Linked DNA regions of Homo sapiens. The protein of the gene in region 4 purifies or fractionates together with the protein of the main gene of each other region. This does not show direct contact. Each region holds a gene or a part of one and is shown on either strand. Other genes may lie near its edges. The genes, in order: SIRT2, ABCA1, USP33, DMD and SIRT5.

Region 1 (5,841 bases), on a different chromosome or scaffold from region 4:
CCATCTCTACGAAAAATACAAAAATTAGCCAGGCGTGGTGGCACATGCCTGTAGTCCTAGTTACTCAGGAGGCTGAGGCATGAGAGTTGCTTGAACCTGGGAGGTGGAGGTTGCCCTGAGCTGAGATTGCCCCACTGCACTCCAGCCTGGGTGACAGAGAGAGACTCCGTCTCAAAAAAAGAAAAAAAATGACACATCACATACAAACTATTATATAAAGGCCAGGCGCGGTGGCTCACGTCTGTAATCCCAGCACTTTGGGAGGCCAAAGTCAACGTCAGGAGTTTAAGACCAGCCTGGCCAACATGGTGAAACCCTGTCTCTACTAAAAATACAAAAATTAGCTGGGTGTGGTGGTGCGTGCCTGTAATCCCAGCTACTCAGGATGCTGAGGCAGGAGAATCACTTAAACCTGGGAGGCAGAGGTTGCAGTGAGCCAAGATTCCGCCATTGCACTCCAACCTGGGCAACAGAGCAAGACTCCATCTCAAAAAAAAAAAAAAAAAAATTAGCCAGGCATGGTAGTGCACACCTGTAGTCCCAGCTACTTGGGAGCTTGAGAGAGGAGGATTGCTTGAGCCCAGGATTTCAAGGCTACAGTGAGCTATGATCAAGCTACTGTACTCCAGCCTGGACCAGTAGAGCAAAATCCTGTCAAAAGAAAAAAAAAAAAAAACCATGTTGTCAAAGAATAACAGAACGCAGAGGTATTTCGGTGGTTCTTTTCCACGCTGTTCAGTTATTTGCTTACTGTTCAGTTATTTGCAAATTGCTCACTCACATGTGAGGGAGTCAGTGGGTAGACTGAGTCAAGTACCAAAGGCAAAACCAAGATTTAGAATAGTGGGCAAGGGAGGAAAGTTACAGGGCGTGTGGGAACAGTGACAGTGACTCTTGTCTGTAGGCTTTGGAGATAAGGTGGTTGCTGGTAGGGAGCCCAGAAGGCAGTTAGAGCATTCTTTCTGCCCTTGAAGGGAAACAAACCCTTCCCGTTGTTTCTGGAGTCCCTGGGAAACGCTGTCAGTTTGGCCCTGGGCCACACATGCGAGCCATCTCTGCGTAACCTCTGCCAGTGTCCTCTGTCAGCACCTGTTTTAGCGGCATTCCTCACAGGCAAACAACAGCTGCTCCAAAGGGGGTGGTTGTTTTAAGAAAAATGAGCGCGCACAAATGTCTGTGCAGAAAAGAACATTCCCACCTGTTTAATATGGAAAGTCTCACTGTCTTAAAAGAAAACAGTGGCCGGGCGCAGTGGCTCACACCTGTAATCCCAGCACTTTGGGAGGCTGAGGTGGGCAGATCACGAGGTCAGGAGATCGAGACCATCCTGACCAACATGGTGAAACCCCGTCTCTACTAAAAATACAAAAATTAGCTAGGCATGGTGGCGCGTGCCTGTGTTCCCAGCTACCTGGAAGGCTGAGGCAGGAGAATCACTTGAACCTGGGAGGCGGAGCTTGCAGTGAGCCAAGATTGCGCCACTGCACTCCAGCCTGGCAACAGAGCAAGACTCCGTCTCAAAAAAAAAAAAAAAAATAGCCACGCATGGTGGCGGGTGCCTGTAATCTCAGCTACTTGAGAGGCGGAGGCAGGGAGAATTGCTTGAACTCAGGAGGCAGTGGTTGCAGTGAGCCGAGATAGCGCCATTGTACTCCAGCCTGGGCAACAAGAGTGAAACTCCATCTGAAAAAAAAAAAAAAGAAAAGAAAAGAAAAGAAAACAGTGGCTGGGCATGGTGTCTCACGCCTGTAATCCCAACGCTTTGGGAGGCTGAAGTGGGAGGATCACTTGAGCCCAGGAGTTCAAGACCAGCCCGGGCAAATAGGGAGACCACCCCACCCCCCATCTCTACAAAAATAATTAAAAAGATAAAAAATTAGCCGGGCATGGTGGCATTTGCCTGTAGTCCCAGCTACTCAGTGGGCTGAGGTGGGAGGATGGCTTGAGCCCAGGAGGTGAAGGCTACAGTGAGCTGTGATCAGACCACTACACTCCAGCCTGAGTGACAGAGCAAGACCCTGCCTCCAAAAAAAGAAAAGAACACAGGTGAATATGCCATCTATGAAACAGGCCATAGTAAGAAAGGACCCTGGCTACTAAAGGGGAAGATAGTGATTAAAGCCAAGGAAGGGCCAGGCATGATGACTCACACTGTAATCCCAGCACATTGGGAGGCTGAGGCAGAAGGCTCGCTGACCAGCCTGGGCAACATAGTGAGACCCCATCTCTACAGAAAATTTTAAAAATCAGCCAGATGTGGAGGCTGAGGTGGGAGGATTGCTTGAGCCCAGGAGTTGGAGGCTGCAGTGAGCTATGATTGTACCACTGCACTATAGCCTGGGCGACAGAGTGAGACCTTGTCTCAAATACATAAAAAAACATGGCTAGGCACAGTGGCTCATGTCTATAATCCCAGCACTTTGGGAGGCCGAGGCAAGCAAATCACGAGGTCCAGAGTTCGAGACCAGCCTAGCCAACATGGTGAAACCCCATCTCTACTAAAAATACAAAAATTAGCCAGTCATGGTGGTGCGTGCCTGTAATCCCAGCTACTTGGGAGACTGAGGCAGGAAAATCTCTTGAACCTGGGAGTCAGAGGTTGCAGTGAGCCGAGATTGTGCCACTGCACTCCAGCCTGGGTGACAGAGCAAGACTCCATCTCAAAAAACAAACAAACAAACAAACAAACAAACCACACCTAGTAAGCCCTCCTGATTCATTTATGTTAATGCTTGCCTAGAGCTGCCACATGCAGCTGTGCAGGGTGCGCACTGCACAAGGATGCCACATCTGAGGGGGCTCCATTAATAACAGAGACATTGTAAATGTATGTTAATTTCAGCAATTAATGACAGGTGGAAATAAAGCATCTGGCTCTAATAAAACAACATTTTTTTTCTGAAAAATGAAAGCAAATGGCCTGAATTTGCAGAATAAAAGCCACACAGGCTGTGGAGTGGCTGTGGGCCTGGCCTCATAGATATTTAGGTTTGGGCCCCTTTTTTTTTTTTTTTTTTTTTAATTTTTTGTAGAGACAAGCGTCTTGATATGTTGCTCAGGCAGGTCTTGAACTCCTGGCCTCAAGTGATCCTCCCACCTCAGCCTCCCAAAGTGCTGGGATTATAGGCGTGAGCCGCCATGCCCAGCCTGGCCCCTGCCTTTAAGCAGCCTTGACTGTCACCCTTTAAGTGGCACCATTGGGATGAACAGAAGAGTCTTCAGATAAACCCTGCCACTTGCTTCTCCTCCCTCCCTTCTCCACCTGTCCCCACCACCTCACTGCTCCTCGTGGCCCTCAACTCCCTACTGTGCCTTCTGGCCTACAAGGGGTGGCTCACTCCTCACCCCTCTTCCCTCCATCTCTCCCTCTAGAACATAGATACCCTGGAGCGAATAGCCGGGCTGGAACAGGAGGACTTGGTGGAGGCGCACGGCACCTTCTACACATCACACTGCGTCAGCGCCAGCTGCCGGCACGAATACCCGCTAAGCTGGATGAAAGGTGAGGCTGGAGGGCATCCTGAGGGCAGGCCTCCTCTCAGCACCAGGAGCAGTGTCTCCATGCAGTGGGCACCCATTCTGTCCTGCTCAATTCTTTGGGGTTTTTTTGTTTTGTTTGTTTGTTTTTGAGACAGAGTCTCACTCTGTCGCCCACGCGGGGAGTTCAGTGGGTGATCATGGCTCACTGCAGCCCAACTGCCTGATTTCCTGTCTTTGGCTGTTTTTAATATATGATAGTAGGCCAGGAGCAGTGGCTCACACCTGTAATCCTAGCACTTTGGGAGGCCAAGGCGGGCAGATCACCTGAGGTCAGGAGTTCAAGACCAGCCTGGCTAACATGGTGAAACCCCGTTTCTACTAGAAATACAAAAAAAAAAAAATTAGCCTGGTGTGGTGGCATGCGCCTGTAATCCCAGCTACTCAGGAGGCTGAGGCAGGAGAATCGCTTGAACCTGGGAGGCGGAGGCTGCAGTGAGCTGAGTTCGCACCATTGCACTCCAGCTTGGGCAACAAGAGCAAAACTCTGTCTCAAAAAAAAAAAAAAAAAAAAAACAAGAAGTCACTTATTCCACTCATGGAAAGCCATTTCTGACATTCTTTATGCTGATTTAACAAAGCCTCTGGTGTCCCTGTGAGATAAGGACAGCTGCAGCATTTGCAGAAGGGCCTCTGGAGTGTGGCTGTTCTGATAAAATGCCAGCTGAGTGCCCCTGGGCTGAGGATTCCTGAATAGCCCAACTGCAAGCAGCTGGGGGCAGTGTACAATTCACATTACCCCCATTATGTGTCATTGACAGCAGCGTCACAGGCAGCACCCACGGTGTCATGCTGTCCATGCAGAAATATTTTAAAGAAAATTACCGACTACTGACATTGAAACAATGCTTTATAAATGTGTGCTGAATGAATGAATGGACAGTTGAGCAAATGACTTAGAATTCAGTGGGTTGCAAGTGACAGAAATGCTTTCTTTCTTTCTTTTTTTTTTTTTTGAGATGGAGTCTTGCTCTGTCACCCAGGCTGGAGTGCAGTGGTGCAATCTCGGCTCACTGCAACCTCCGCCTCCCGGGTTCAAGCAATTCTCCCTGCCTCGGCCTCCCAAGTAGCTGGGATTACAGGCACGTGCTACAACCCCTGGCTAATTTTTATATTTTTAGTAGAGACGGGGTTTCACCACGTTGGCCAGGCTGGTCTCAAACTCCTGACCTCAAACGATCCACTCGCCTCAGCCTCCCAAAGTGCTGGGATTACAGGCGTGAGCCACCACACCCGGCCAGAAATGCTTTCAAGCTTCCTAAATCAATAAGAAATAAGGCCAGGCACAGTGGCTCATGCCTGTAATCCCAACACTTTTGGACGTCGAGGTGGGTGGATCACTTGAGCCCAGGAGTTTGAGAACAGCCTGGGCAACATAGGGAGATCCCATCTCTAAAAAAAATAAAATGTAGCCAGGTGCGATGGTGGATGCCTGTGAGCCCAGCTACTCGGGAGGCTAAGGCAGGAGGATCACTTGAGCCTGGGAAGTCGGTGGTGCAGTAAGCTATGATCACACCACTGCACTCAACCATGATTGCACCACCACACTCCAGCCTGGGCAACAGAGTGAGAACCTGTCTCAAAAAAACAAACAAACCAATAAGGCCGGGCGCAGTGGCTCACACCTGTAATTGCAGCTCTTTGAGAAGCCAAAGTGGGCAGATTTGCTTGAGCCCAGGAGTTTGAGACCAGCCTGGGCAACATGGCGAAACCCTGTCTCTACAAAAAATACAAAATTTAGCCGGGCGTGCTGGCATGCACCTGTAATCCCAGCTACTCAGGAGGCTGAGGCAGGAGGATCACTTGAAGCTGGGAGGTTGAGGCTACAGTAAGCCATGATCGTGCCACTGCATTCCAGCCCGGGCAACAGAGTGAGACCTTATCTCAAAAAAAAAAAGAAAGAAAAAAACAAAAAAAATGCAACAACAAGAAGAGAGGTCTTTTCTGAGCAGAGTGGACACCTCAGGAGACACCCATCACACTCCAAGTGATGGAGGTGTGTTCATGTTAACAGTGGAAGAGGGGTGGGGGTGCTGCACCTCCAGACTCCGGCCCAGATCCTCTTACTGCCTTCTCTTTCTTCCCCTTCCCCATACCCAGAGAAGATCTTCTCTGAGGTGACGCCCAAGTGTGAAGACTGTCAGAGCCTGGTGAAGCCTGGTGAGCCTCTGGCCAGGGACCTGCCCAGGTGGATTTGGGTGGGGGTCCCCTCCTCCCCCTGACCCCCTCCCAAAGGCCACACCCGCACACATCTGGCCACCTCTGTCTCTCTGAACAGTGCCCCAGATCCATCCTGGGGAGAAT
Region 2 (5,841 bases), on a different chromosome or scaffold from region 4:
GACATCTGCAGGGACCAGAATGCAAAGATGGCTCAATCAACTCAGAGGGGCTTCGGAGTGAGGGCTGGCCATCCCCCACCCTCTCATCAGAGGCCTGCCGCTCATACACCACACCTGTTCCAGGTGTTTAGGTCATTCCACATGTTCATCTCTGGTCTGAGGGTTGGGGGCAAAGGAAAGGACTATGTCTTATTCACCTTTGTATCACCAAAGCCAGGCACATTATAGGTACTCAGTGTAGAATGGGTGGACAGCTGGATGGGTGGATGGGTGAATGGGAGGATGGGAGGATGGAAGGATGGGTGGGTGGGTGGGTGGATGGGTGAATGGATAACTGAGGCTCAAAGTCTGGTGTCTATTGCCTAAGCTCTGGGATTCTTCAAAAGAAAACTTGAGTAAAGGAATCTTAAAAGATTCTTCACCCTTTCCTATGCTTATAAAGTAGGTTCCCTCATTTACCTAAATAAAGGGTTAATCTAACAGTCCATGGAAGCAGAAGCCTTCCTGGGAAAAGCCAGCCATTAGGACTAGGCAGAGATAGCAAGGGTCAAGACTTCTGTTCCACATATGCTACTGGTGACACTGGCCTCCTACACACGCTACCCAAGAAAAATCTGGAAGGCTGTTCCTCATCTCCTGGGCTCTCACTCTTCTTATGTACTAAGCTCAAATCCCACCCTCCTGGCTTGGCCCTCAGCTCCTCATCCCTGGTATTCAGTGTCCACTCCCCTAAGGGATTCCCCAAACCCCAATCATCTCAGCTCTCTGGGACACTGCCCTGCTAGCTCCCAAACCGAGCCCCAGGCACCCCAGCAAGCATTAGGCCAACCCGCCACCAAGCTGCTCCCACACCCGCAGCCACCCAGCCCCAGCCCAGCAGCAAACCTTGAGTCAGCGCCACCAGCCTCTGCACCTCTCCTCCTCTGCCTCCACTCTGCCCAGCTGGGGGAAGCTCAGGCACCACCTGAATAAGAAACCCCAGAGTCCTTACCGATGGTCAGCGTGTCACTCTCATGGTCGCTGCCCAGGCCAGCATCAGAACTGCTCTGAGAAACACTGTCCTCCTGATGGCAAAGAAGGAGGTGAGAACGGGTCAGGGACGGAGCAAGGCAGAGCCACCAGCACCTTCGCCGGGGAGGGCTTCCAAGAAGCTCTGTTGTGTGAGAACTAAAGGAAAAAGCTTTCCCTGGGACACATGCACTGGCAGCCGTGGCTTCAGAGGACCCTGTCTGGCATGTGTGTGCCGTGTGAACAGCCTCGCTTCCTGAGGGTGAAAGGTCAGGAAGCAGAGCTGCCAAAAGAACTGTGGCCTGCCAATGAATGCTGCAATGAGGCCTTTGCCAACCATCTCAGGCAAGGCCTTTACCTGGCTACATGTCTAGTTCAATGCTTCTCATGCTTTAATGTGTGTTCAACCACTCAAGAACCTTGTTAAAATGCACAGATTCTGATTCGGTAGGTCTGAGCTGGGCCCAGGTTGCTGAATTTCTAACAAGTTCCCAAGTGATCCTGATGCTGCTGGTCCTCAGACTGCACTTGAGTTAAGAGGCTCATTAAAAGGTAAATAAGTGGATAGGAGTTTCAGGTTGGGATGTAAATACATTAGGTACCACTGGCTTCAACACACAAATAAATCTCAGGCATGTACTGCGGTACAGAGGAAAACATACCTGGTAATTGGGTCTGGTCCCACCACTGTTATTTACCTGCTGGGTGACCTTGAATCAGCTACCAATTCCCTACAAGCCTCACTTCCCTCATCTGGGATAATAAATATAGTTACCTTCTTCCCAGGGTCTCTCTGCACTTTAATTGAGATGATAGAGGTTAAAAAAAAAAAAAAGGTTGTAAATGGTAACAACGCTATATAAAATTAACTATTATCATTACTTTCTTTCATGCCCAGAGTGTCTCTGGCATGAAATCAGTGCCTAATAAATATTGGCTGTTTTATAGTTTAAAAGTTAAGGTCAATGAGATTGAAAAGTAATGAGCAGGAACACCAGGTCATTTGTAGCCAAGGCTCTTACCTCTTGACAAGTCTCTTTTCTTTGACATAATAATGTCCTCTAAGGACCTTCTCCATCACTCTCTGTGCCTCATAGGAAAAGGAAAACGGGATTCAACAGAACTAGCACAATGGGAGCAGAGGGCCCCTTAGCTTTCCATGCCTTAAGTATGATATGATTTCAAAGGGGCAACAGAGCAGGGAGATGGTGGTTTCAACATGGCAAAAGGGGTGGAGATGGAGAAATCATTCACAGCCAGCAAGTCCTGGCTGCCCAGACCCAACACCAGCCCAGCACCAAGACTGCAGCTCACCTTTTTCAGGTATGACACAGTGCTACTACTGTTTCTGCAGGAACTGAGGGAGGATTCCACATCTTTCTTGACCAAGGTCAGGTAGTAGCCTGTTCCCAGCTGGTTCTTCAGAAACAGGGAGGAGCCCACACAGCACAGCTTCCCATGGGAGATGATGGCAATCCTGTCCCCCAGGACGTCCGCTTCATCCATGTGGTGTGTAGAGAGAATAATGGTGCGGCCTGCCAGGCACAAACACAAGGATGTGGGACAGGTGAGGCCTCTCAGTTCTGATTTGTCACAGTGACAGGGACTAGAGAGATATTAGCAGGGGTAAGCACTGGAAGAGACCTGGAAGCCACCTTTCACCCTGTATGGCTATGACCCCTAGAATGGCAAAGCTTTGTATATATAGGTACCACATCCTCACAGAGGTAAGAACAGTAGCATTTTATTTGGGAACTTGCTATATGCCAGGCATTGTGCTAGGTGGTTTGTGTGCATTCTCATTTAATTTAATCCTCTATGAGGTAAGCACCACTATTATTATCGGCAAAGAAGGTGAGGCAAGTTGTGACTTTCCCAATGTCTCAGGGCCAGCCAGAGTTGGCTCCAAGCCTGCCTGTGCTCCTCATACTGTACCACATCAGATCTCTAACCAGAGAGCCCAATCGTCTTCCTGCCCCTCTCCGCTTCCATTCATTTAAGCATCCACCCTTTCAACTAACCATAAATTTAGTGCACCATGTTGGGGACAAAAAGATGAATAAAGACACAGCATCTCCTCTCAGGAATCTCAGTCTCAATGCCCTTTATCTCTTCTGTGATAACAGAAGAGTATCCCATGGCTTCACAGAAGCCTAGCCATGAGATACAGCCACACTTCTCAAAAGCCCCCCGCTCTCTCTCAGTCCATTTACTCAGAATAAATACACATCAGGCACCTTGTCGGTATTTCAGCAGCAGCTCCCATATTCCCCTGCGGGAGTAAGGGTCCACACCAGCTGTGGGTTCATCCAGAATGACAACCTTAGATCCCCCGACAAAGGCCAAGGCCACAGATAGCTTTCTCTGCATTCCACCTACAAAAAAACAGAGCAAGACAAACTCCAGGACCAGCCCCAGACAGTGAGTGAAGGCAGAGGACCTAGGGGCACAGCCAGGGACAAGTTTCTGTTACCAACCGCACCCAGCCTGGGACCCTGGGGCAGTGCTGATTTTCCTCCGCATGTGTGTAGCCGGAGGAGGAGGGGAGAGGGATAGGGAAGGTAGCTCTGGGCCGCACCTGACAGCTGGCTTGTTTTGCTTTTCAGCTTGCTTGATGGCAAACCAACATCCAGGGCCATCTGCTCCATCTCCGCCTTCACGTGCTTCTCAGAGAGCCCTTTCAAGCGGGCATAGAACCAGATGTGTTCTTCGACAGTCAGCCTGGGGACAGGGAGGCAGGTCAGCTCTGGGCCCTACTGGATACCCCAGAATACAGTGTCCCCTGGCCCAGAACAGATGAGAATGGGCATATTTTTCTCTCCCCGTGCTTTTTAAAATAACTTTATCAATTTCTGAAAAATAATCTTCAAGATTCAAGGTAGAACAACAGTGAGCAACCACATGAGCTGCTCAGGAAATCAAAGTGAAAGGTGACAGATCGCTTCCAACCTGTTTCCAGCAGGCCTGGCCACCATGCACCAGGCAGTTACAACTTTCAATTTCAGGGCCCCAAGATGTGGTCTTTAATGGGCTGTCCCCACAGCACGTCCACCAAGAAGTCAGCTCGGCACTCACCTGGAGCAGCCTTCCTGAGCCTCAGGGGACCTCAGGCTCTGAAAGCGGGGAGGACCCTGCACATGAGCCCCATGTGTTCACTTTAGATGAGGAGGGAGCACATGAGCCCCAGCTGTTCACTTTAGATAAGAAGAAACATAAGGGAAAAGCCTTGCCCAAGATTGCAGAGCTCAGGTCTCTCTCTGCTCCATCACACGGGCTCCCTGGGGGCCTTATGGCTGATGGGACAACCTGAGTGGGAGCAAATGTCTTAAGCAGCAAATATAGGTCCATCATACCAGGGCCCTGAAGCACTACCAGGTCTGGGAAGTCTGCTCCAGGCCTCAATAAGGAGGGTGGCGGGGGAGAGGATGGGCTAAAGGGCCCTCCAGCATGACAATAATGGGAAGCAATGTTTCCCAAGCCCCCATCCACTGGCTGGGCTGATGTCACCTCTACAGCTCAACCATTCACCTCCCACTTCTCCTAAAATCAAAGAACAACTAGGTCTCAAGGTGTTCACGGAGGTGAGCCTGCCATATTCAAAGAAAGTAAAATGTGGCCAGACACAGTGGCTCATGCCTGTGTTCCCAGCACTTTGGGAGACCGAGGTGGGCGGATCACGAGGTCAAGACATTGAGACCATCCTGGCCAACATGGTGAAACCCCGTCTCTACTAAAAACACAAAAATTAGCTGGGCATGGTGGTGTGTGCCTAGAGTCCCAGCTACTCGGGAGGCTGAGGCAGGAGAATCGCTTGAACCTGGGAGGCCAAGGTTGCAGTGAGCCGAGATCGCGCCACTACAGTCCAGCCTGGCTACAGAGCGAGACTCCATCTCAAAAAAATAAAAAAGAAAAAAAGAAAAAACAAAAACACAGCAAAGTAAAATGCTTAAGTCCCACTCCTCCCATGATGGCATGACACACACACATCCAGAAAAGGCCTATTCTTAACGTGCTGCTGGTACTCACATGTCAAACAGCACGTTATGCTGGGGACAGACCCCCAGGTTCTGCCGGATGGTGCTCATCTCAGAGCGAATGTCTTTTCCCAGGATGTAGGCGGTGCCCGAGGTCGGGGGGAACAACCCGGTCAGGATTGACCTGAGGACAAAAATTTAGAAGTACAGAAGTCAGGGTTGACCTACCCTTAACTCTAGATGCTCCATTCAGTCTGCAGAGAGAACAGAACACCAACCCTCCCACCGCCCCCATTCCTTTCTAATGAACCCTACCAGACCCACACAAAGCAAAGCTGTCCTTTTGCTTCGGTAAATAACTACAAGTGGGCCTATGGGTTAGAAATGCCAATTTTAGTATGAGCATTTTTTAAACGAAGTTTCCAATCTGCAATGAAAGTATTCTTTAAAAAATGTATTTTGTATGCCTAACATCGCATGCATGGAAAATGGACAAACAAGAACATATTATTCAAAGATAAAAACAATTTTTGTGTTAGGTAGTAGGATTTCTGACTGCCTTTTAAAAATCTTCTGAAAAGCTCATAATATATTAATTCTATGTTTTAAAAAAAGATTAAAAAGAAAACAGGAAAAGAATGTCACCCCCCAAAGATATACCCTTTGGAATGGTTAGAATGGTTGAGGAATCGTGCTGGAAGCCACTGAGGCTAACGCTGGTGCTTTACAGCCCCTGACCCCTCCTGATACTACCCACTGTAAGGTCCTTGAGGTCGCAGGGAAGGCAATCAAGCCAGCTGCCCAGCTTGATTGCGTCTCACAGGTGCTTCTCACATCTGCTTAGAGACAGAGTTCCTGG
Region 3 (5,841 bases), on a different chromosome or scaffold from region 4:
AACTATTACATAGACCTGCATGGTTTATTGAATAACTTATAAACCACAAAGGAAATTAAATTTACAGTGTTTCTGAAGTTCAAACTTTTAAACTGTTTCATTCTATCCTAGCAAGTTCTAAACTTTTTTTGGGAAAGTGTTCTCAAACCTCAAAGTTGAATTAAGAGCATGAAAAGCCCTGTTATTAAAAAGGTACAACCAAAAGATCTAGGAATACCAAATTAGACTTGAGACCTTTGGAAATCACTCGCTTTACTTGAACCAAACACTGTGGATCAGTAAAGTTTGCATCTCTTAGCCTTATGTGCAAATGAAGCTAATAATGGTGCCTATTTCAGGGGTTGTAAAGATCATGAAAATGGGGTTCTCAAACCTGGAGAGATTTTGTCCCCCAGAGGGTATAATTTAAAACAGTCTAGAGACACTGGTCATCAGAGTTCAGAGTGGTGGCAGGGATGGTCTGTCTGTCTCTTGTGGATAGAAGTGGGAATGTTGCCAAATAACCTGCAGTGCACAGGACAATCCCTCACAGCGAAGAATTATCTGGCCCTAAGTGTCAATAGTGCCGGGATCGAGAAACCCTGATATAAAGTGCTTATCCTGGTATAAGGCCAGGATACCAGATGATTTAATTTATGCCATCAGTAGGGGGTCCTATTAGTAGAAAAATGAAGCTTTCTACTTGAAGTTTTTTTTTTTCAACTCCTAGTCCAGCCTAAGGATTAATTTTTTTTTTAAAAGGATAAAAGTGCTTCACAGTTGAATAACTTGAATATTCCCCCCTTTTATTTATCTATAAAAAGTGAAATGAGAGGGGAAAAGCAGCAAAAGTCATGGAGAAACAAACTTACATTTGTTTATAGATGTCAATTTTAATAAAATGTTTATGTAGTAGAGAAATTTCCAGTGTTCAGATTAACTTCAATTCTGAAAACTCATCTATGTTTGAGAATACACTCTTTTTACAGGGCAAACTTATATCATTCTTATGTTATCTTTTAATCATTTTTAATATGTTAACATTTTAATTTTTTTATTTTTTGGAATCTTTGCAGGCATTGTAAGCATTTATTAATTTTTTTGTGTGTGTTACTTTTCTTATAGGTGTTACCTCATTTTGAAAGTCTTGGGAAACAGGAAAAAATTCCTAACAAAATGTCAGCTTTTCGAAATCATTGTCCACATTTGGATTCAGTTGGTGAAATAACAAAAGAAGATTTGATACAAAAATCCCTTGTAAGAAACAGGTTTTTTCTTCCTTGAAAAACTATTCACTTTTCTCTTGAATGTGTAATTTTCATAAATTACTGTAATACTCTATGAGCAGTATTTTAAAAATATGTATGATGTCATTAGTGCATTAGTGAATTGTATGTGTTTGTGTCAATATAACCAATGTTGTCTTTTTAATTTCTTTTTATAGGGTACTTGTCAGGATTGTAAAGTCCAAGGACCAAATCTTTGGGCATGTCTGGAGGTGTGTATATGTTTTTTCCTGAAAAGATTGCTATAATAATAATAAATTTGGATCTGAATAATCATAACCAGAAAATTTTTGATACTTAAAGTGATTTTTGTAAATTAAACTTGCTTTTAAAAGGTCATTATTAATAACAAAAATTAAACTTTGGAAAGATCTTAATCTGTAGTGCTTTTGTAGTTTTTAGTAAATCACTCAGCTATTTTATGCTTGCCTTTTATTAGAAATGACATAGCTTTTAGCTTAGAAATATATCCTGGTTTTATTTTGTGCCTGGAAACATTTGGTTAAATTTAATGACTGGAAAGTCATTTACTCATTGAATGTAAAACAGGTAATCCAAACTTAATTGTAAATGTAATTGTAATGCTGTTATAAATTTACATGTATATTATAAAGTACCTTATTTTTCTTCCTATATAATTATTTATAGAATAGATGTTCATATGTTGGCTGTGGTGAATCACAAGTAGATCACAGCACCATACATTCTCAGGTATGTATATAAAAAATTTAATGGAAGACTTGTTAAAAAAAGTGCCTGAAGGAAAGGGAAAGCCAGTATAACATTATTAATTCAAGTTGTAATTCAAATTTGCACTCTAAGTTAAAACTTCACTTACATTCTCTGTGAAGGATGGGGAAGGGAATTGCTAGGAGGATGAACATTAGAATGAGGTTGTGATTAAGAAAGCACTGATTTCAAAAGTGTACATCCGGCCAGGCATGGTGGCTCACGCCTGAATCCCAGCACTTTGGAAGGCCAAGGCAGGTGGATCACCTGAGGTCAGGAGTTCGAGACCAGCCTGGCCAACATGGCGAAACCCTGTCTCTATTAAAAGTACAAAAAAATTAGCTGGGTGTGGTGGTGGGCACCTGTAATCCCAGCTACTCGGGAGGCTGAGGCAGGAGAATTGTTTGAACCTGGGAGGCGGAGGTTGCAGTGAGCCGAGATCGTGCCATTGCACTCCAGCCTGGGCAACAAGAGCGAAACTCCATCTCAAAAAAAAAAAAAAAAGTGTATATCCAGATATTTGAAGGTGATAGCTGGCATATTAGGAGGTTGAAGCCCAAGAGAGAGTGGGTGCTTAGGTTTATGACATGGCCTGGCTAACTTCTTTAAGTCTCAGCTCATGTCATATTGCCTTTTCCTGCACATAGTCCTAACTGGACTCACCTTTCTGCTTTGCTCTGGTTGTTTGGTACTTCCCATGTAACTCTGGCATGCCTCTTCTATAGTGTTATGTAGAGCTCCCATTCTAAATGGAAAGTTTCTCGAATGACTTTGTTTTAAGATGCACATTGATACCTCTACAGCATCAACTGTTCTCAACCAGGATTCCTCTATAGAATTAATTAAGCCTGAATACCCAAGCTCTGAGTCATCATTGTATATCATTTGCCTCTTTCTGTGCATCTAAGATGGTATTTGCTGTGTACCACCATTGGGAGAATTGATAAATTAGTCACTCAGATCATTTTTTGTAGGGCTTAATTCTGTAGCAGAACTCTGGTTGTGAAAGGCTAGACTTTTATCTTTCCAAGATTATATATTCTGTATTGCTAGAGCTGTTTTATGCCTTGACTCATGTCATTTGTGTTCTTTTGCCATTCTGATTTCTTAGAATAGTTACTTGCTATTGTTAATTATTTTCTTGTGTTATATTTATTTGTAGACTGCAAAGCAAGGTCTTACACTCTTGCGTTTATCTTTTTGTATAATGAATAGTGAGGGGAGAATGGCAGAGTAATTTCTAGAGTAGGCTTAGATGTTGTTACTGTTTATTATACCTTAGAAGTTTATCTAAAGAATTTTTTTCATGTTCTAAATTAGCTTTTGAGTATATTGTTACTCATCAAAGGCAAGCAGTTTATCTTCTGTTATCTTTTGAAGAAGTCTTTTCAAGTATATGTAATTTTGGTTCCTCTTTTCCCTCTACTGTGAAATTATATAGGAGACAAAGCATTATCTAACTGTGAACCTTACCACTCTTCGAGTATGGTGTTATGCTTGCAGCAAAGAAGTATTTTTGGATAGGAAATTAGGAACTCAGCCTTCATTGCCTCATGTAAGACAACCTCACCAAATACAAGAAAACAGTGTCCAGGTAATAATCTAGATCCACTTAGTTAAGCTGTAAAACATTCCGGTAATAATTTCAGAATTTGTCATGTAGCTGAAATTTTCAAAAGGAATACTGCCTAACCTGTACTTTGAAAATTTCTGTAATGTGCCTTTTTTCTCTCAAATAAAGCACTCAGACTCCCCTTTCTTGTGTTGCTTAGAGTGCTAGATTAGGGTGAGATTGAAGCCCACCTGTTTGAAGATGGAAAAGGCCCTAATGAATTTTTGAAGTTTTTTTTTTTAAATGACTCAAGTAGTCTTTATCTTTTTCTGGTAAGTCTGATTTCAAGAAAGGTGGTGGGCCTTCTTTGATAGCATATGGCAGTTACTAATTCAGCTCTCTTCCCCGTTCTCTCCTCCCCTCCATCCCCTTTGTATTACTGTGAACATTTTACTTATTATTGACAACAAAGTAGAATATAATAAAGCTTAGCATCAGTCTTTGGGTTAAAGATTTTTCTCCCTTTGGGCTGGGTGCGGTGGCTCACGCCTGTAATCCCAGTGCTTTGGGAGGCCAAGGCGGCTGGATCACGAGGTCAGGAGATCGAGACCATCCTGGCTAACATGGTGACACCCCGTCTCTACTAAAAATACAAAACATTAGCCGGGTGTGGTGGCGGGCACCTGTATTCCCAGCTACTTTGGAGGCTGAGGCAGGAGAATGGCGTGAACCTGGGAGGCAGAGCTGGCAGTGAGCCGAGACCTTGCCACTGCACTCCAGCCTAGGTGACAGAGTGAGACTCCATCTAAAAAAAAAAAAGAAAAAAAGATTTTTCTCCTTTTGGATCAAGAGACTTAGAAAACACATGGGTTTGCTTGCAGAATTTATCACTTAATTTTCAGAATTCTTAAAGTCATAGAAAAATAGGAAAAAGGAAATTAACTTAGAATAGTTGGCTTCTTAATCAGATCATCAGTTGATCAGAATTTGATCAGATTTGATTAACAGCAAGTTTTTTTCCTCATGTGTGTTATAGAAATCACATATTTCTGTACTTGTTCATTGATACCAACTGTCAGGTTTTTCTGTTGTATGTTTGTATCACATTCTTATGGTAGATATTTGTGATAATAAATTTGCTTGCCTTACACATGAAAGATGGCTAGATTTTAGTCAAAGAATAATTTCTTGCATTTTCAGTTTCTCAGTTGAATGGCTCTAGTTAATTATAACCATTACTGTTTCTCCCACTTATACCTATTTATCATTCACAAACATGTTTAGTCTTTTTCAAAAGTCCAGATAGTATGAAAATGGCCGTTTCGTTGAATCCTCTTACATTATTAACAAAAGTTTGTCCCACTGAAGATAGCTGAATGGTAATAAGTAGAAAAAGTTTTAAAAAAGAAAAAAGTGTAATGTTATGACTAAAGTTTAATCACACAAGGAACTAATAATATATAAAGGCAAAACTATCAGCATCACTTACTAGAGAAGTAAGTTAAATAAGCTATCTGTTGCCATTTCTGCCAGAAAAGATCAAGATTACAAACTTTAATAAATGTTGAATCTGATAGAATAAGTATACTGATACTTTCCTGATGGCTTGTTAATAATTTTCTGATGACTTGTAAATATGTTAACACATAAAAGGCATAAACTTAATTTCATTCAACTTCCTTATGATCCCATTGTTGAAGAAATTATTCAGAAGAAAACAGTGGTTCAGATAGATTTCTTTAGTGGTCCAAAACTTATATGCTGTTGAAATCCAGTTTACCACAGGATATTTGCAAAATAGTAAAATATTGGAGGCCATGCAAATATTAATAAGATTTTTCAAATAGACATTTTTTCTAGATAGTAAAATTTCAGGTGATTTAAGCCTCTGTACTTCTGTGTATTTAGATATTTTGTAGTGAGCATGTATCTTTTTAAAAGCAATTACTTTATGAAAACAAAATGAAAGTATGAAGTCCACTCAAATGTCCAGTCTCTACAGATGTCAGGAAAGTAAAATCGTTGGGAATTAGTGCATATGCCTGCATTTTAGAGGTAAAGTAAGGCTATAATAACTTGGAGAACCAGAGTACATGCTAAATTCTTTCTGCTATTCAGTTTCCTTCTCTGTTTGGGTGTTGCTGAATGTTGGTTCATTGTAGTTCAATCTTCTGATATTACAAGAGAACTTTCAAATTTTGATTTTTATTTGTCGTCTCCGAATTTTTTAAACTTTAGCTCAAAGTTTTTTTCGTTTTTTTTTTTAAAGTGTTTACTAGCATTTGGCTAACAGGT
Region 4 (5,841 bases):
CAACATGTTGCTGTAAAGACATGAAAGATGAACTTTAAGCCTACAGTTTATATCTAGAAAAACAAAAAGGGACAGTTAGGAAAAGTAAAAATCAAACAATTAGAGAAGGAGAATATAGGGGGAGGTAAGAAATTCTGAAGCTATGGCATATGCTGCATCAGAGCCATTGTAAGGTTATATCAAATACTACTTTTCATTAAGCTGTTACTGTGACTATCACAAATGACTCTAGGGCGTAAGAATTGGGAAAGATAACTCTAATCAGTGGCCACAGTGAAATTAGTTTTAAAATGCATTGACAATTGGTCAAGTATAAAGATGTATCTTGAATATTTCTACACCCACCTGTCTATCTATCTACCTACCAACCTATATACCTACTTATCATCTATCAATTATCCCTCAGTTCTAATTAAAATACGATGCCAAATATAACTGCAATATTAAATTGATTATTCTTCATACAGATTGTGATTACTTTATTATCATGGATAATTAAGAGTTAACACAAAAATAGCCCCCTTCACATTCTGAATTTTGGATCTTTAATATATAAAACTTAAGAATAAATCGTTTATGAGGAAAATATATCCCAGAATTTTACTACAATTTTTTAAAAATATATACTGGTTCACACATGCTTCCTTTATTTCACCAGTCATTATTACGTTGTACAAATATTTGTTGAGAGCCTACTATGAATAGGGACATAATGGCATTTTAAGTAAGTGGTTTATGGAGATTTTTGATCCTGTGCCTATTTAGCCATAAAGCATTAGCAACTTGATTAGTTTGTAACGAATTTTAAACCTGCATATTGGGTGTGTCAAGACCTGGGGAAAATTGGAATGGAGAAATGAGTTAGTAGTCAGATAATTCAAAGCAAAGGACTCCCCCTTGAATGATCTATTAAATTGAGGTGAAACTATTTTATTAGAATTTTCTTTTTGATTGCCTTAATCTTTCGCTTCATTTTGCATCTGCAGACACAGGCTTGCTGGTTAGTGTAAGGTTATTTATGACACATTACATTCATAACATCTAATATGAAGGATAATAGGCTGAAACATTCAGCCAGGTGGAATTAGACTTCACATGCAATACAGTTTCGCTATTTCTCGTATTCTTCCAATTGCTCAGAATAATTCACCTGCTATTAAACTTTAGGGTATTAGATTTAACAGAAAACAGTGTATTTATTAATTTTCTTGAAGTATTAAAAGAAGTCACAATAATATGCAACATACTTCCCTTATATGCTTATAAAATTAAGTTATGGTAACTGCTTTTGACATTTTAAAAATATACACCAAATTAAATGGAACTGACACTATCACAGAAGAAGTTCCCAAGAAGTCTCATACATGGGCTGAACCCTATGCAGTTATTATTTACATAGGGCAAAATGGTTGAGTATCTGTTTGATTCATATAATTCAACCTAACTTAACTATAAAGACTTAGTTTCCAGATTTTGACATCCTGGTTTTGTGAGGAGTACTTTCTTCTATAATTACAGATGATGATCATTCCTCTTCATCTTACAAGTGTTAATAATAGGAACAAAAATGTACCTGTCAGAAAACCTCTATGGTTTATACCTACTACAAATAAAGAAGTGAGACCAAGCTAACAATTCTGAATCGCCTTTTTAAAGAGAGAACCATACACTTTCCATTCAGTTGTTTGAAAGAAGAGCAGTCACTCCTTTTTGTTTTGGCTGGTAACATTTCAGTAATAACATTATCTGATATTGTTCAATCTGCAATCAATTAGCAACCATCTTACTAGGCATCCAGTTCTTTTATGGGCACTGTAACCCATTAAGTAGTTAAACCAGGTGTGAGGATTAAGCTATTATTCTTCAAGTCAATGAGATAATGGCTTATGCAGGTTGACATAAGATGTACCATGAAATATTTATTATTTATCATGTATACATTAAGAAAGTAAAATCAGCATGGGATGATCTCAGGAAAGCAATACATATTTTTTGGATTAGACATTGAAGTAAAGTGAATGTATGATAAATTGACAAATTAACATTGCCAATGTTATGAAAAATGATGTAGCAAAAAAAATTAAGATGTATTTTCATTTTTGATAAGGGGTTTTCCCTGTTATCTGTTAATTTCTTGTGTCTTTAATTGGCAAAATTAAGCACTAGTGTTACAGAAGCCCAAAGTGAGGGAAACCACTCACTTTCAGAATGTACATTAGAAGTTTAAAACTGTACCCAGATTTTTTGTCTCTTTTTTTTTTATTAGTAGGCCTCTGTTAATAGAGTAGTAGTTGCAAACACATACGTGGGTTTGCCAGTAACAACTCACAATTTGTGCAAAGTTGAGTCTTCGAAACTGAGCAAATTTGCTCTCAATTTCCCGCCAGCGCTTGCTGAGCTGGATCTGAGTTGGCTCCACTGCCATTGCGGCCCCATCCTCAGACAAGCCCTCAGCTTGCCTACGCACTGCATTCAGCTCCTCTTTCTTCTTCTGCAATTCCCGATCAATTTCCTATTGAGCAAAACCAATACAGGGCCCAGGGCAGTTAGCTAACCACATCAACCGACTTGCAAGCAGCAAATACTTCTCTCAAAATTTCAAAGGCTGTTGTCCCTTTATTGTCATCCTTTGAAGTTTACAAATATGAAAGGCATGACTGTCATCCTCGCTCAATAACCCAAATATTATTTCAGTTATCCTTTGAATGCTTGGTTTTAGATATTCTAATTAAGTAAATATTGAAATTGGTCTAACATTTTCTTTCTTCTAAATTCCTCTGGTGTCTTGGGATTTGAAACAATTTGGAGTGATAACTCATTATTTATTAGGGACCGTCCACATAGAATATAATTTAGAGGGTAAGTGAATAAGTTATTTATTTCCTTTTTAAAGGTTTGAGGAACTCAACAGAGAATGAAGCAAAATAAAAAGTGTAAAATAATAACAGAAAAAAACATATTTAGACAATATGCAAATAAATCTATAGAGAGTGAACACTGATGTGTGAAGATGCTCTGATGAAATGAATGGGCTAACATGAGTAAGAAGTCGTCCATATACCGATAAGTCATTAGTTCATCTGGAACAAAGATACACAAAGTCAATTACAATTTTACCAGAAAACACATCACATTTCTTAAATCACTTTACATAGTCTAAAACATTTTATTCATTCAACATTACGTCAATTGAATAACACTTAATACAATACATTTACTGAAAACAACACACAATACAAGGAAATGCATCAAATCAAAGAGAACGTTAATAGAAACAAGAACATCAACATTTTAAATATGATCTTCACAGGTTAATTAAACTGTATAATAAAATCTGGTATTGACATTCTAAAACAACATTACCTTTATTTTCCTTTCATCTCTGGGCTCAGGTAGGCTGGCTAATTTTTTTTCAATGTCATCCAAGCATTTCAGGAGATCATCAGCCTGCCTCTTGTACTGATACCACTGATGAGAAATTTCTAGAGCCTTTTTTCTTCTTTGAGACCTCAAATCCTGTTCATGGTGCAGACATTATTAAAATATCAATATATATGTATAGTGCACTTCTGGCTGCAGTTATTTATCAAAATAATTTGCGTCCCTCATCTTTTTGTACAACTTAGGTTAAAATCATATTTAAATGCAAAATATACAAAGACATAATTAAATTGCCTATGCATGAGGCGGGACCCATGTATAGGAAGCTAAGAAACCTGAATAACACACTTAAAGTATTTTCTCTTAGCATGTTCAAACTTGCTTAAAAATTTTGTCACATTCAATTGACTCTTAATGAGCTAACTGTTGTGTAGTTTATGTGCAAGAGTTTAATATACGAATACAATTGACTTAACTAGATACAAACTCACAAACCTAGTGAGTTTGTATCTGACTTAAAATAGGTAAAATTCTAAAATGTATATCTTTAGCCTTGGGGCTCATCAACAAAACTTTATGTACTCAACCAATATACATTCATGTTTTTAGAAATGCCTACATAAGAGTTTCATAGGCCATTAATATTTTATGATTAGAAATATAAAGCCATTTTAGTTGTCTTATAAACTGTTCCAAGCTGTATGTGTAGAAGTGTCACCACTGTTCGTATATTGGTGAACATAACTAATAAAAAATTATGTGAGATAAATGCTTCTCCTTCCAAGGCTTGCATAGCCACATTTATCTTACTATACCAAATCATGCTCTAAATGCAAAACAATTAACTATTTGAAAAAAGAAAACAGCAAGTGCATGCTTTCAAATCAATGTGATAAGACTAATTTAATAAATCAACAATGGGAGGAAATCAGTCATCATGCTCTTTACAAGCACACTCAATATCTTCTGTGATTAATAGAATTACTCAAAATGCCATTTTATAATTCATGGGAACATAAGCTCTGCATGCAGCTTTCATTTCTACAGAAAGTAGCAATTAGGGTTTTATTCACAGGTTTAATTCGAGCGAAAAAATAATAAATATCAGGGAATTTCTAAAAATTTCATTCCATTGGAAAATTTTGACCTTCTCTAAAATATTTCATAAGGACCAGAATTGGAACTATTTGACAGGTTTAAAAAGTTATTGAATATGTTGGTATAGATTGGTTTGGCGAGTAGTGTTGACGATTTTGATTAATCACTTATAGCCTGTATTTGCAAGAATGAACTACATTTCATTATCTAGTTTGTTTAAAATTGGGAATTTAAACCTTGCTGTACTTTATGTTTTATGTTGAATTTTCAAACCTTCTGAGGAGTCAGATCGAACGCTGCTTTTTTCAAAGGTAGCAAGATACAGCCACGTGAATTAGAGTTGAGCCATGCCTTATTTGTGACATAACTCACATCTTTGCCAGGAGAAAGGGCTTGGTGGTCATCAATCTGAAACATCTTTCATTTCCTAAGCACAAAGTGATGTATAATATGTAAAATATTTAGAGATGTCATGTAGATTTCTTTAGAGGAATGCCAGATGACCATTAAACACTGCTATTCAGTAGGACACACACCATCATACGACCAGTGTAGATACTTCTGAAAGCTTGCTCACAGTTGGAAGGGTGTGAGTTACATAGCGTTCCGATTTTCTAGACACATTATGGTGTGCTTTTGCACTCCCTCGAGGAAGAGGCCTTTTCTGTTTACTATATTTATCAGCAGTTACCTTCAGAACACCTGCTGGCCAATTAGACTTTCCTTGTGGATTCCTTGCAGGCACAATATTGTGTAATTACATTCTCAGCAGTGTTTATTTGGTTGACTATAGGGGGAAAGGTTTTATTCTCTTATTTGCATGTAGAAAGCAGACTCCATCTACCTGCTAGGTGGATCCACCTTCATAACTACATAGCTCAAAAGAGTGATTTACAAGGAAAAGCTCAGCAATTAAAAGTATTAGAAAATCAGCCATGCATGCAAATAGTGATTATTGCAAAGCATATACAAAAAAAAAGTTTCACAAAACTTTCCACATGTCTAGTCTCAAGAACTTCCTAGATATTATTATAGAAAAATTAAGTTTATCCTGCTCTTCCTGCACAAACCAGATGAGTCACCTGGGGACTTGAAGCCATACACTACACTGCTTAATATGAAAGTAGCAGTTCTTATTCAAGGGCACTAAGATTATTTTTTAGGATTCCTACATAAATGAAATTTGACTTTGTAGATAGTTGCAAAGAGTGACTTTCTTAAAGGCATAATAAAGTTTTAAAAATAAATAAAAGAATCTAGGGCTTATTAAACAAGTATCAGGTTACCAAAAAATTGGACCTAATGCAAGCAAAATCAATTAAGTAAAGAAAGCAGGAATAATGGATACATGTAGATCGGTTA
Region 5 (5,841 bases), on a different chromosome or scaffold from region 4:
TCAACATACATTTGAAGGAAAGGAAGAAATGGAGGGAGGAGAGAAGGCGGGAAGGAAAGAAGCAAGGGAGGGAGGAAGGAAAAGAGGAGAGGGGGAAGGAAAAAATAACAAACTCCAGTCCTGTCCTGGGGTTAGGGAAGGGCATGACCCACCACTAGACATAAATCACAGTGGGCGAGCTCTCTGTCAACCTCCTCCAGAATGGCAGGATCCAGGTTTTCTCCAAACCACACGACGTGAGGTCGCAGCAAGCCCCCGCAGCCTGCCTCTTCACACCTGGAAGAATGGGATCCTTAAGCCAACCCCGAGCCAAGTCTGCCCAGCTGGATCGGAGGGAGGCCAGGGGCTGCCCCAAACCTAGTACATCCAGATGGGTCACCTCTGATGCCTCTTATTCCCTACACCCTCCCTCCCAGCCTATATAAACTTGCCTTGCTTATGAAGCATCAGGTTTAATGGTCTTTTTTTTTTTTTTTTTTTTTGAGACGGAGTCTCACTCTGCTGCCCAGGCGGAAGTGCAATGCCATGGTCTCCGCTCACTGCAACCTCTGCCTCCCAGGTTCAAGCAATTCTGCCTCAGCCTCCCGAGCAGCTGGGACTACAGTCATGTGTGACCACACCCAGCTAATTTTCGTATTCTTAGTAGAGACATGTTTCACCACATTCGCCGGGCTGGTCTCAAACTGCTGACCTCAGGTGATCTGCCCTCCTCGGCCTCCCAAAGTGCTGGGATTACAGGCATGAGCCACCGCGCCCTGCAGAACTGTCCTTATTTTTTATCTTGTCTGTATGTACTTGATGTGCTGACACATTGTTTCAGCTAAGCTTTCCCAGTTCATTCATTATGCTCACATTTGTGCTCACAGCCACCCAGACCTGGGAGACATACTGGACTCAGATTTGCCTCCCACCCCAAGCATCCCCTAATTTCATCAATGACCTCCTTTCATGTTCTCTCAGGTTCATGTCTCTCTGGCCCAGTATGTAGCCAGCTTTCCTGTGTCCATTACTAAAAATCTCTCTTCTTTCACTCCCTCCTACCTCAGGGTTACCTTCTATACACCTCCTAAAACCATCCCCCAAACACCATTTTCATCATAGTAATCTCCTGCATCACAGGAATCCTCCAGGTCTACCTATTCCTTCAGAAGAAAACTTTTAATATTTAGCAATTAAAACCCTCATGAGGAAAATTTAAAAGGTTCTGTGGTTAAATAAGCCAGTAAAGCATTAACATACGTATTACAACCACTTTTTAGAAGGCAGCAATGTGGATTAAATGCTCTAAAAAGTCCTGCAGTAAAGCAAACATATTTTAACTTTGTTTAGTCTAACATTTCCATATTTATTTGAGTGCCTAACATGTTTTTTTCAAGTAATGTCTCAACGTAACATTAAATTAATGTTCTATGAAACACTTTTAGAAGTGCTGTTTTATTTTACCTTAAAAACACTCTAATCCAGCCGGGTGCAGTGGTTCACGCCTGTAATCCCAGCATGTTGGGAGGCTGAGGCGGGTGGATCATCTGAGGTCAAGAGCTCGAGACCAGCCTGGCCAACATGGCGAAACCTCATCCCTGCTAAAAACACAAAAAATAGCCAGGCGTGGTGGCGGGCGCCTATAATCCCAGCTACTCGGGAGGCTGAGGCAGAAGAATCACTTCAACCCAGGAGGTGGAGGTTGCAGTGAGCCAAGATCGTACCATTGCACTCCAGCCTGGGTGACAGAGTGAGATTCCATCTCAAAAAAAAATAAAATAAAATAAACACAACAAAAAAACTTCTAATCCAATTACAGGTTATAGAAGTGCTGTTTTAATGCCTGGTTTTGAAAAATTGGCATAAAAATCTTCCTTTTTTTTTTTTTTTTTTTTAATCTATGAACATTCTGTTTGGTCCTGTAACCTCTCCTATTCAGGTCCTTTCATTGCCTCCCTAACCCTGGATTAATAATGCCAGTGATGTTATTTGACCAGTTACAGGTCAGCCCCTATGCTTTCTGTACACTGGGTAACCACCTGTCGCACGACAGCTTCAGAAACTTTCCCGACCTCAAATGATCCTACCACAACACAAAGCAAAAAGAGGTTGGAAAAAAATCATTCTTTTCATCCTAATTTGGTTCATCCTTTGTCCTTTCACTTTTGGTCTCAGAGATCAAGCCTGGTTTTTACATTTGTGCATTTGATTTAAGAGGCGTCTTGCCAAATACATGTTTAGGTTTTGATGTCTGTTTTTTTTTTTGTTTTGGTAACCTGGAACACCAGTACAAATCAGAGTTTTCTACCTACCGGGGAAGTTTCTCAACTGGGATGCTGGCATCTTGAGTTCCAGGTTCTGGAGCACTGAAGTAAATAATATTAGAAAAGAAAGATTGTTATTGGCATAATAAAAAATAAAGAAACAACATAACTCAGTTTGTATATTTGCCTGGCAGTATGTGGTATAAAACTCCTAATTAATACATGCTCACTTGGAAGGGCATTAGAAGGAAGGACCCCAAGCCATTAATTACCAGTGGTGCTGGGCACAGTGGCTCATGCCTGTAATCCCAGCATTTGGTGAGGCCAAAGTGGGAGGACTGCTTGAGGCCAGAAGTTCAAGACAACCCTCGGCAATACAGTAAGACTGCATTTCTACCAGAAATACAAAAATTAGCTGAGTGTGGTGATGTGTGCCTATAGTCCTAGCTACTTGGGAGGCTGAGGCAGGAGGATTGCTCGAGCCCAGGAGTTGGAGGCTGCAGTAAGGTGTGATTGTGCCACTGTACTCCAGCCTGGGAAACAGAGCAAGAACCTGTCTCAGAAAAAAAAAAATCACCAGTGGTTGTACTGCCAGTGAGGGAATGCATGTGTGGGGAGGGCTGGAGTGGCTGGGTGTGCCAAGGGGGAACTTCATGTTTACCTTTATACATCATCATCATCATCATTTGTATCCTCTGCAATGACATTATATAGTCCTTATACAATTTATACTGTTTTTAAAAGGCTGAGTGGAATTTTTCTCAATATTGTGTCTACCCTCAAATTTTTTCCTCATTGTAATAATAGTACATGTTCATAATAGAAATATAGGAAAATTCAGAAAGATATAAAGAAGAAATTAAAAATTACCCATAATCCCTCCACTCCTGATATTCCTTATTAACATTTTGTTGTATTTTCTTCTGGTCTTTTAACTATATACAGATACACGAACTCATTGTGTGTACAAATTTAGGACCCTGTGGTTTTCACTTAACACTGTAAGTTGTGAGCAAAATATTTCTTTTATCACATGGCTATATTTAGTTTTTTTGTTTGTTTGTTTGTTTTTTGAGACAGGGTCTCCCTCTGTCACCCAGGCTGTAGTGCAGTGGCATGATCTCAGCTCACTGCAGCCTTGACTTCCCAGGCTCAAATAACCCTCCCACCTCAGCCTCCCTAGTAGCTGGGACTACAGGCATGTGCCACCACACCCAGCTAATTTTTGTGGTTTTTTGTTTTGTTTTGTTTTTTTGTAGGACAGGTTTCTCACTGTGTTGCCCAGGCTGGTCTTGAACTCCTGAACTCAAGCAGTCTCCCCACCTTGTAACCCCAAAGTGCTGGGATTACAGGCATGAGCCACTGCACCCAGCCTTGTATTTAGTCTTATTTCTCATAAATATCCATGGGAATCTTTGATGAATGTTCAATTTCCTCACATTTATGTTCAACCTAAAGGAGAAAACAACCTATACTTATTCTGTAGTGTGGTATAATTACCCTTTTCCTGATAAAGCTGGACAAATTGGACTCTTGTAATTCTCAGCCACAACTCCACAAGAGGTACATCGAGTTTTAAATAAGCTACCTGAAAAATACATATGAAGCAAATCCAGAATTTAGTATAATCAAGAGCAACCTTCTCCATGTCTAAAAGGGTATAAGATACTTTATTTTTCACACTTCATTTCATGTTTTGGTCTCACCCAGTTACCCAGGCTGGAGTGTAGCAGTACGATCATAGCTCACTGCAGCTTCCAACTCATGGGCTCAAGCGATCCTCCCACCTTTGCCTCCTGAGCAGCTGGGACTATAGGTGTGCACCGCCACACTGAGCCATACTTCATTTTAGCAAATGGGCCTACCCTAGCTTTAGCTTTCATGGGAAACAGAGGCATGCAGTACTCTTAAGCCAGTCAAGAGCATATGCCCTCAAGGACTTTATAATCTGGAGGAAAAATAAATAACTCCATGACTAATGTGCCATCAGATGACCTTGGAGTGGTGTTCAAGTGGGCAGAAGTTGCCAATAGGGTAGAGGGAGCTCAACCTAAATCTAAGGGCGTGATTTATTGACATGACTGACAAAGGTTCAATGGCGTGGGATATGTTTACAAAATTTTAACTTCGATTTCAGAAAGCTTGAATCTTTTATACAAAAGCACCTCAATAAATAAGTAATCAACTAATAAGTGAAAAAAGTAATTGTTAATACTAACCACCACTTATTGAGCTGAAGCAATCATGGTGGCCACAGTTTATGAAATGGGTACCAGGCAACTGGTGCCGTGCAGAGCACTTTCAACCCTAGTGGACATGCGCTGCTCCGTCCTGCCCACCAGTCCTTCCTTGGGGAGCACCATCCCTGCTCTCTCGCATGCTGAGCCAATAGGGCTGTGGGTCACATCCCAAATACAAGCTCAGCCACATGCTGCGCACGGCCCCCATGTGGTGTCCATCCCTCTGCAGTCGTGTTTGGTCAGAAGGGTGGGCGTGTGGACCAAGCAAGCCTACCCAGAGGTTTATTTTCTGAGCAGGTGGCTGAGCTGGAGCCGTCGGAGGCACTCTCCCTTGGCGCGTGGAGACAGATCAATTGCAGAGAGAGAAGGGAGGCCACCTCAAAGAGTGAGCAAAGCTGAAAGAAGGAGGGGGACAGGGGCCGGGAGGAAAGATGACATAAGCTGCACCACTAGGCTCCTCAGTTTTGTGAGCCAATAAACCTACTTTGTCAGTTTTAGCATAGACATTTTTCCCCATTTTCACATCTCTGAAATTCAGATGTGTCCTACAATTGCTACTGGCCAGATGAGACTGTAACATCATCATCATGCTTGCACAGACTTGTTGAAGGAGAACACTGAAAAATGGGGTGACTTTGTTGTTATTCTCCGTGGCCTGACCGGGCAGATTCAGCCCCTGGATCCTTCCGCCAACAAACCCTTCAAGGGCCACTTCAGGAAGGAAAGCAAGTTTTGGCTGTTGTCTACAGCCTTTCCACTGATGCCTTTTGGTAAGAACATGTCAGGCCCAATAGCGAACTTGCGGAAGGTGTGTCAGGAGCTTGGATGAGAATCCCAGCTATAACAGAGGGGCATTCTCTCAGGAAACGCTGCATCATCCATCTCCCGAGACACAGAGCATGAAACTGCATGGAAAACACAGACATCCGTGCTCTGAGTCACTCAGAATCATTTAGAAGAGCTAGATAATGAGAAATATTTGGACCAGTTTATCATACTCATACTTTATGTATGCCTGGAAAGATATAATTTCTAAAGAACGTGTCTAAGTTTTAACAAGCTCTTTCTCTAAGTATAGAATAATTCTAAGGGATAATAAAATAGTATATCATGGTTTAGGCAGATTATATTCTAAATGCCACATTAAAAACATGATGCATCTTAAAAAAAACCCTTCATCAGACTGAAGATGCCATTGATTTTTTTTAACCTAAGTTAGAAGAGAGTTCTCATCGTTTGAAATTTTAAAAAGTCCTGACTAACACACATATATGATCTTATTTAATCCCGACAACAATTCTATAAGATAGGCATTGTCATCTCGGTTTTATGCTGATGACATAGCCCACATTCTGACA

What was found.
Region 1: the proteins of DMD (region 4) and SIRT2 purify together in Homo sapiens (affinity purification with mass spectrometry; 2 studies listed by BioGRID and IntAct, with this or other methods). This does not show direct contact.
Region 2: the proteins of DMD (region 4) and ABCA1 purify together in Homo sapiens (co-immunoprecipitation; one study listed by IntAct). This does not show direct contact.
Region 3: the proteins of DMD (region 4) and USP33 purify together in Homo sapiens (co-immunoprecipitation; one large-scale study listed by IntAct). This does not show direct contact.
Region 5: the proteins of DMD (region 4) and SIRT5 purify together in Homo sapiens (affinity purification with mass spectrometry; one large-scale study listed by BioGRID and IntAct). This does not show direct contact.

What each region holds. Positions count from the first base shown.
Region 1 is NC_000019.10:38,881,288-38,887,128, reverse strand, and holds part of SIRT2 (NAD-dependent protein deacetylase sirtuin-2), read left to right. Parts: intron 1-3,372; coding exon 3,373-3,502; intron 3,503-5,637; coding exon 5,638-5,697; intron 5,698-5,841. UniProt on the Homo sapiens protein: NAD-dependent protein deacetylase, which deacetylates internal lysines on histone and alpha-tubulin as well as many other proteins such as key transcription factors.
Region 2 is NC_000009.12:104,816,341-104,822,181, forward strand, and holds part of ABCA1 (phospholipid-transporting ATPase ABCA1), read right to left. Parts: intron 5,167-5,841; coding exon 5,035-5,166; intron 3,730-5,034; coding exon 3,587-3,729; intron 3,384-3,586; coding exon 3,246-3,383; intron 2,544-3,245; coding exon 2,323-2,543; intron 1,065-2,322; coding exon 992-1,064; intron 6-991; coding exon 1-5. UniProt on the Homo sapiens protein: Catalyzes the translocation of specific phospholipids from the cytoplasmic to the extracellular/lumenal leaflet of membrane coupled to the hydrolysis of ATP.
Region 3 is NC_000001.11:77,737,012-77,742,852, reverse strand, and holds part of USP33 (ubiquitin carboxyl-terminal hydrolase 33), read left to right. Parts: intron 1-1,104; coding exon of another isoform or gene 1,105-1,155; coding exon 1,156-1,236; intron 1,237-1,423; coding exon 1,424-1,477; intron 1,478-1,913; coding exon 1,914-1,976; intron 1,977-3,435; coding exon 3,436-3,588; intron 3,589-5,841. UniProt on the Homo sapiens protein: Deubiquitinating enzyme involved in various processes such as centrosome duplication, cellular migration and beta-2 adrenergic receptor/ADRB2 recycling.
Region 4 is NC_000023.11:32,339,771-32,345,611, forward strand, and holds part of DMD (dystrophin), read right to left. Parts: intron 3,517-5,841; coding exon 3,364-3,516; intron 3,081-3,363; coding exon of another isoform or gene 3,072-3,080; exon of another isoform or gene 2,597-3,071; intron 2,513-2,596; coding exon 2,330-2,512; intron 1-2,329. UniProt on the Homo sapiens protein: Anchors the extracellular matrix to the cytoskeleton via F-actin. Ligand for dystroglycan.
Region 5 is NC_000006.12:13,593,467-13,599,307, reverse strand, and holds part of SIRT5 (NAD-dependent protein deacylase sirtuin-5, mitochondrial), read right to left. Parts: intron 3,832-5,841; coding exon 3,744-3,831; intron 2,346-3,743; coding exon 2,292-2,345; intron 1,581-2,291; exon of another isoform or gene 1,444-1,580; intron 279-1,443; exon of another isoform or gene 277-278; coding exon 153-276; exon of another isoform or gene 1-152. UniProt on the Homo sapiens protein: NAD-dependent lysine demalonylase, desuccinylase and deglutarylase that specifically removes malonyl, succinyl and glutaryl groups on target proteins.